Linked DNA regions of Homo sapiens: regions 2 and 3 are each linked to region 1. Evidence: fine-mapped expression QTL. A gene starts in region 1. Each other region holds a variant in brackets. All regions are shown on one strand. Distances are between the middles of the regions.

Region 1 (2,500 bases):
TTTCCTCCAACTATCACCATCACCACCACAATCCAGAACTCTGTGAAAAGAGATAAAGATTCAAGGGCCTTAAAGCGATTGTCCCAGGTTGGTTGTGAGGTAATTCTTGTACCTAAAGATACAAAATTTGAGTAAATGACTTTGTTCCTACAGCAGGTAGCAAGCCAGAAGGCTACTGCTGGGCTCATATTTTACAAGTACCTAAAACTAGTTGTTAGTTATGGGGCATGTTTACAAAGTGTTAACATCAACATATTTATGCCCATCTCCATATAGAATCTTCTTAATATAACTCAAGATAATTGATGTAACAAATTCACATCATGATCTTACCAATTTGGTTTTTAACATCAAAGTGCTGCCCCAGGCTTCAATCAGCACATACCAGACTGCTATGTCCCTTTTCTCCAGAAGCCATATTGAGCACCCCACAGCTCTAACACCTCAGAGCCTAGCCAAAGGCCAAGAACACTTGCCTGATCCCCCAAATTTCCAACACAGGACCATTGACAGCAAGCCCAGTCATTCCAGATCATCTTCAGTGGGACAAAAAAAGAAAACAACAGTTTTAATCCAATGGAGGCAATTTATTGTTATGAAGATTTCAGGAAACAAAGCTCAAAAAGGAACCAGAAAGGAAAAGGCTTTTTAGAATGTGGATAGAGCCACAAGTGTCATTAAGGAGAGAGAGAGAGAAACGGAGAGATGAAATTTATGTTACTTAAGATCAAGTTTCACATAATGCCAGTTATATTAGCATATACTGGCAGGATTATCTTTCCCCACCTACAAATAGTCTAATGACCTCACAGTCACAGAAATCACAGAGAACTAAGCTGAAGAGAGAACACTCGTCCCTGCTTCCCATCTTAGAGCAGCTGAATAATTTCCTGAGAATTCTATTCCTGAAGCTAGGAAGAAAAGTTTATTTATACATACACGCAACCTGCAAGTCTCCAGTTTCTATTCTTCCTTCCTCTTTGACCCTTCCCCTCCCCCACTTTGCACCAGAGAAGTCAGACTCCGGGAGTGCTTTAACAGTTTGAAGGCTAATCTGAAAGAGGAAGAAGAATCTGTATATCTGTATATATTGGCTAGCAAATGTGCCCTGCTCTCTCCCCTCTTAAAAATAGCAGCAACCCATCTTTGCAAAGAAGCTTGCCTATAGAGCAGGCACTCTGTGAATGGACTGTGCTTTTACGACCCTACAGGGTATCAAGATACTGTGCAGCTCGCCAACAAGGATTAATTGCAAGGACTGGTAGATCGAATTTACTGAAGACTTGGAGCTTGCTTCTGAGAACAAACGCAAAAGGACAGTAAACTGTGGACCTTGAAGTTAGCAGGTAAGGAGACTCAGTATTCAGTACTAAGACCAGAACAGTATGTAGTAAAATGTTGCTGATGGTAAATTTTAGCAAATTCCCAGGAGTTTGGGGATAAGTTATCTGCCTTGCCTGCTTTAAGTTTGGGTGCTAGTATGAATTCTTTCTGCTTTATTTCTTAGCCAGAAATCTGATAATATGATCAGTCTGTCAACAAATATTGCTCAGTGCTTCTGCTAGGGCTCAACGTGGCAAAATACAGAGGAGACACACTCCGCAAACCTCCTGTGCCTTTGTAATTTAAGCCAGAAATGTAAGATACATTTTCAAATCCCCATTTTGAGGGTTCAGTGGAGTTTCTCTAATGTAGTGACATTTTCCTTCAATATGGAAAATAAATATGTAGTAATTACTGAAGGTAAACCAGTGGAGAGTAAAATTTTCACAAGGTAGTTTCACATTTGTTATCCCACCTGAACCTTTCAACATCCTATAATTTAGACAAGGTAGGTGTTACTGTCCATGTTTATGAATGAGAAAATTGACTCAGAGAGGCTAAAAAATTTTCTTGAAACACACCGTACAACTAGAAAATGGCCAGTTCTGGCCAGAGACTGTAAAAATAAAGCTCTCTCAACTATAAATGAATAGAAGAAAATTGCATGATCTATTTAGTAACTCAGACACATCTGGTGTAGACTAAGTTTACACAGAGCCAAAGATTCATACATTTTAATAAAATCTTTAGCCAGGAACATTTTTCTACTTAGCGACAAAAAAGGCTGTTTTCAAGAGGAAACAAATGGGTTTGTAAGTTCCACCTACTGAATTCAGTGGTTCTGCTTTCCAGTATTCTGATTATTTTGAAACCTAGAGAGAAACTATGATACCATATGTCTAACAAATGATTATTTTAAAAGAAATTGTAACTAAATCTGGACTAGATTGTACACTGTTTTAAAAACAAAAATATTTATATTTTTACAATGCATTATAAAATACAAAGGACTGTATTACATTTAAAATACATTAGGAAAATTTGTTACAAGACAATTTTAACTTTATTACAGAAGTCTTAATCATTCAGAAATGTTTTCTGTTGTTGTTTTACTATTAATGGCTCAATTAGAACTAAAAGCTATCTGTTTTTACATCATAAACAACCTCAAGTGCTA
Region 2 (2,861 bases), 100 kb before region 1:
ATTTGACAAGTTCTCCTTAATGAAGTGAAGTTTAAGAGTTGCCACACTGAAGAGATTTTAAGCGCTCTAATATGGGCATTGAGGCAGAGCCTTGCCATCAATATGTACTTTGCCACAGAAGTAGTGTGCTAGGGGACTCAGGCTACAGTAGAGGCTGGGTGTTAAATAACTGTGGAATTTATGCTTTTTTGGCTAAAAAGTATCTAGATTTGGCTCTGATCCAAGTTAGTATACATAATGTTCTTGTTAAGACTTAAATTGTTAGAGGATACTAACTCCTTGTCTGTGGGAACATAGTCAGTTTGATTCAGGGTACTTCTACTAGAACTTCTTCATGGTCCTTGGAATTTTTCCACTACACGATATATGATGTTTGCTATAAACCAATTGCTTTCATGGAAGCATCAAATCTTAGTTGGAATGGATCTTAAGTCACCCAATCCAATTCCCTAATAACTGGGGTACACAGACTCCCTCTATGAATTCCTGGACAAATGGCCATCCAGAAGCTAATTAAACTCCTCCAGAAACAAAGAACTTTGTACTTCATCGGCAGTCCATTTCATTTTTTTTTTGTATTTTTTTTTATTTTTAGTAGAGATGGGGTTTCACCGTGTTAGTTAGGCTGGTCTCGATCTCCTGACCTCGTGATCCACCCGCCTCAGCCTCCCAAAGTGCTGGGATTACAGGCTTGAACCACCGCACCCAGCCCATTTCATTTTATAGACAGTGTTAACTAGCAGAAAGCATTATCCCATATTGAGTCAAAATCTGTCTCTATAGTTTTTACCCTTGAACATAGTTCTTACTCAGGAAAATACAGAGCAAGCCTGCTCCTTCTTCCCAATGATAGCCCTTTAAAGTATTTAAAAACAGACATTATATACTCTTTAGTACTCCCCCTTCCTAGACTAAATATGTTCAATTCCATCAACTATTTCTCATTTGAGATTATTTTTGGCCCTTTCATGACCCTGATTAGATTAGTCTAGATGTACCCTAGTTTGCCAAACTTCCTTTTAGAGTGTGGTATCTCAACATCAATATTATACTCCAAATAAAGAAAGGTGCTCCTTCTACTAATTCTATTCAGTCAGTCCAGACTGACATAGAATTAATAGAAAGAGCACCTCCCTTGATTTTGAGCACAATGTATTTGTTAATGTAAAATTGTTCAGTTTCTGTTTCCTTCTTTCCTCCCTCTCTCTTTTGCATTTTCGGCAACCACATAAATTCACATTCAGCCGTAGTCAGCTAAATTC[C/G]TGAAACTTTTCCACACAAGCTGCCATTAAGTCACATCATTTCCCAAAGTCAACAAAAACATATATTGGGGACAGGGCACCCTTTTCAATAAATGGTGCTGGGAAAATTGAATTGCCATATACAGAAGGATGAAGTTGGACCACTATTTCTCATCATATACCGAAGCCAACTCAAGATCATTTAAAGACTTAAATGTAAGACCTGAAACTATAAAATCCAAGAAGAAAACCTAGGGAAAACTCTTTTGGACTTTGGCCTAGCAAAGAATTTATGGCTAATACCTCAAAAGCAAATGCTACAAAAACAAAAATAGACAATGAGACTTAATTACACTAAAAAGCTTCTGCACAGCAACAGAAACAATCAACAGAGTGAACAAACTTGCAGAATGGAAGAAAATATTTGCACACTATGAATTCGACAAGAGACTAACATCCAGAATTTACAATGAACTCAAACAACTCAACAATAACAAAGAAGAAAACTACCCCATTATAAAGTGGGCAATGGACATGAACCAACGTTTTTCAAAATAAGACATACAAATGGCCAGCAAGCATATGAAAAACTGCTCAATATCACTAATCATCTAATAATCAGAGAAATGCAAATTAAAACTACAATGAGATATTATCTCACACCACACAGAATGGCAATTATTACAAAGTCAAAAAATAACAGATGTTGGCAAGGATGCAGGGAAAAGGGAATGCTTTTCCACTGTTGGTGGGAATGTAATTAATACAACCTCTAGAGAAAATGGTATGGAGATTTCTCAAAGAACTAAAAATAACACTACCATTTAATCCAGCAATCCCAGTATTGGTTATCTACCCAAAGGAAAAGAAATAATTGTATTAAAAAGATACCTACCCTTATATGTTTATCACAGCACTATTCACAACAGCAAATATATGGAATCAATCTAAGTGTGTCTATCAATGGTTGATTGGATGAAGAAAATGTGGTATACACACACACACACACACACACACACCACGAAATACTATTCAGCCAGGCCATTGTGTTAAGTGAAGTAACTCAGAAACAGAAAATCAAAAACCACATATTCTCACCTGTAAGTGGGAGCTAAATTATGTCCAAGCATGGGCATGGAGTGTGAAGTAATAGACATAAGAATCTCGGAAGGGTGAAAGAGATGAGCAATTACTTAATGGTTACAATGTATATTATTCAGGGGATAGTTATACTAAAAGCCCAGACTTCACCACTATGCAATATATCTATTTAACAAAACTGCACTTGTACAACTTAAATTTATACAAATAAAAGAGAGAGGAAAAAGTCATGTCATTTCCCATATTTTATTAACCATTTATTTGCTTAATATATATCGTCTCCTATGTTGCAAGCACTTTGGTAAGTTTGAGAGTATATAAATAAATTTGAGGGTTGACTTTTGCAAATCTAGTTCAGAATTTTACTTTTTCCTTATTTAATTTTACTTTGTTAAATTCCACTCGACATTGAGATCTTTGTGGATTCCAATCATGATGCCCATCACATTCACTGCATCTTCTAACTTCATATAATCTGTACATTTCGACAAATTACACTTTGTGTCCTTATCAAAATCC
Region 3 (2,500 bases), 88 kb before region 1:
CCTTTTTTTTCATCAGTATAGCTAAAGTCTTGTAAATTTTGTTGACTTTTCATAGATTTTCTCTACTGTTTTCCTAGTCTCCCCTTTGTTTATCTCTGCTCTAGTCTCTGTTAATTCCTTTTTTCTGTTAGTTTTGGGTTTAGTTTGTTCTTATTGTTCTAAAAGATCTAAAGATGGGTTATTGACTGGAGATCCTCTCTTTTAATGTAGATATTTACAGCTATGAATGTTTCTTTTATCACTAATTTCACTGCCTCCCATAAGTTTTAGTATGCTGTGTTTTAATTTTCATTTGTCTCAAAATATTTTCTAATTTCTGAGTAGCTGACACAGAGACCAATCCCTTGGACAACCCACAGACAGGTTAGAAAGTTCAGTCTGCTCTGCTTTCTCCAATAATTGTAAAGGGAATAGGGATCTGAGGATTTGGCTGATGCTTCTCCCAAACTGCACTGTGCCAGAGCCTGGGAATGTGAGGGTTAGGGAGACAAGGGTGAGGAAAAATGCTGCAACATATTCTACTGTTTTTAATACAATTTTTAAATATGCATTCACTTTATTGCTATATATCTTTGACTTTTTTCAAGCACTCCTATAAAATAATTTTAGCCAATTTCTAGTTGTTTATTTTATATTTCTATGGGGAAATGAGGGCCTGGAGATTCCTAGTCTGCCATCTTGCTAATGTCACTCTTATTAGGCATTTTTGCAGGTAGAGTTCACAAGTACAGGGTTTTAACTGCTGGTTATTATGACTGCTTTCTTCCTTGTCACTGGGGTTACTTTATGTAATAGATGAATAAATACTCGACTCAAGTATTTATTACTTTATGACCAAGTAAATTGTTGTACACTCCATATAGGGGCCATCCCTCATGTTTGTTACAATGATAGCAACTTGATCAGAAAAAGTCCCAAGTTTACTAGTATATCTTTCTGTAGTTAAAAAATGTTTTCAAAATCCAATCCACAAGATTGAAAGCTGCTTAGAAAGTCTATGGCCTCAGATCTACAAACGTAATGAGATCGATGTTCCCTTACATCTCATTAATCTCCTCACAAGGATTCCTACTAAATTAAGTTCTTGCAACTCTCCTTTTTTGCTTTGCCTAATTTGTATCTTCTGTACCTGATAATTAAATGCCTGGTTTACATAAAGTGTGACTGATTTCTAATTGCTTTCAACAGAGAATCTCAGGGGATCTAAATATATTTTATGCCTTTGTAACTTTCAGTCTCCTTCATGAAGAAGTGAGTGTCTCCACCTACCTTTGTATCGTTTGGAAGGGTTGATCAACATGTGACCTTTAAGTTCAGCAATGTTTCACAGTTTTTCTTTTAGCTAAAGAAAAAAATGAATGATTT[C/A]TATTTGAACTATATTGGAGCACCCTTGCAGTTTATATTTATGTGAGGAGGTTTGAGAAAGTTTATTTTAAATATATTGACAGGACCAGGCATGGTGGCTCATGCCTCTAATCCCAGCACTTTGTGAGACAGAGGCAGGCAGATCACTTGAGCTCAGGAGTTTGAGACAAGCCTGAGCAACATAGTGAAACCCCATCTCTACTTAAAATAATAATAATAATAAGCCAGATATGGTGGCATGCACCTGCAATCCAAACTACTCTGGAGGCTGAGGTGGGAAAATTACCGAACCTGGGAAGTCAAGGCTTCAGTGAGCCATGATCATGCCACTGCACTTCAGCCTGGGTGACAGAAGTGAGACTCTGCCTCAGTAAATAAATAAATGATTTGACAGGCACATCTAGATTCCTCAACAGAGTCTAAGAAGTCACCTTTAAACAATATAAGACTCACACAAACATTCTGATAACTCTCAAAGTAATTGGCACCTTTATTTAAGAAGAGAGAGAGACAGAGAGAGAGAGAGAGAGAGAGAGAGAGAGAAAATCCTGGCTAATTAATACAAAAGGATAGTTTTCAGTTCCAGTTTTACACAAGAAACAGAAAGAGAGCAAGCAAGAACCCACATCTCACATGTTATTGAAACTTCCTTTAGAATATATTAAAGATGTTGAGGTTTGCTTTTCTTTGTTAAGGCAAAAAGTCTCAGCCAAGGAGACAGAGACTCCCCTTAAAGACCAATGCATGATTGTTATTTTCAACACCCTTTTTCCTGTTTCTTCCCAGAATCTAAGAGCCTCTGCAAGACCCAGAGCTGACCGCAGTCCACTGAAGTTATCTTTTTTTTTTATTATTATACTTTAAGTTTTACAGTACATGTGCACATTGTGCAGGTTACTTACATATGTATACATGTGCCATGCTGGTGCACTACACCCACTAACTCATCATCTAGCATTAGGTATATCTCCCGATGCTATCCCTCCCCCCTCCCCCCACCCCACCACAGTCCCCAGAGTGTGATATTCCCCTTCCTGTGTCCATGTGATCTCATTGTTCAATTCCCACCTATGAGTGAGAATATGCGGTGTTTGGTTTTTTGTTCTTGCAATAGTTTACTGAGAATGATTTCCAA

Which allele goes with the higher level. Alleles are on the strand shown, and positions count from the first base shown. SD is a standard deviation of normalised expression in the study named. Not every link is listed here.
For the expression in visceral fat of the gene that starts at base 1,040 in region 1, allele C in region 2 goes with a higher level than allele G (moderate effect, 0.59 SD a copy in GTEx).

What was found. PIP is the estimated chance that this variant, and not a neighbour inherited with it, causes the effect.
Region 2: its variant is the best candidate, but not a certain one, in a credible set for the expression of CYSLTR1 in visceral fat (GTEx, PIP 0.84).
Region 3: its variant is the best candidate, but not a certain one, in a credible set for the expression of CYSLTR1 in whole blood (TOPMed, PIP 0.54).

What each region holds. Positions count from the first base shown.
Region 1 is chrX:78,326,151-78,328,650 of GRCh38, reverse strand. CYSLTR1 (cysteinyl leukotriene receptor 1) reads left to right here and starts at 1,040. Exons shown (of 3, transcript NM_006639.4): 1 at 1,040-1,346. RefSeq lists an enhancer at 819-868.
Region 2 is chrX:78,427,759-78,430,619 of GRCh38, reverse strand. No RefSeq gene overlaps it. Among named protein-coding and RNA genes, the nearest start is that of CYSLTR1, 100 kb to the right of the region's middle. The variant C/G (reference allele first, on the strand shown) is at 1,263.
Region 3 is chrX:78,414,484-78,416,983 of GRCh38, reverse strand. No RefSeq gene overlaps it. Among named protein-coding and RNA genes, the nearest start is that of CYSLTR1, 88 kb to the right of the region's middle. The variant C/A (reference allele first, on the strand shown) is at 1,366.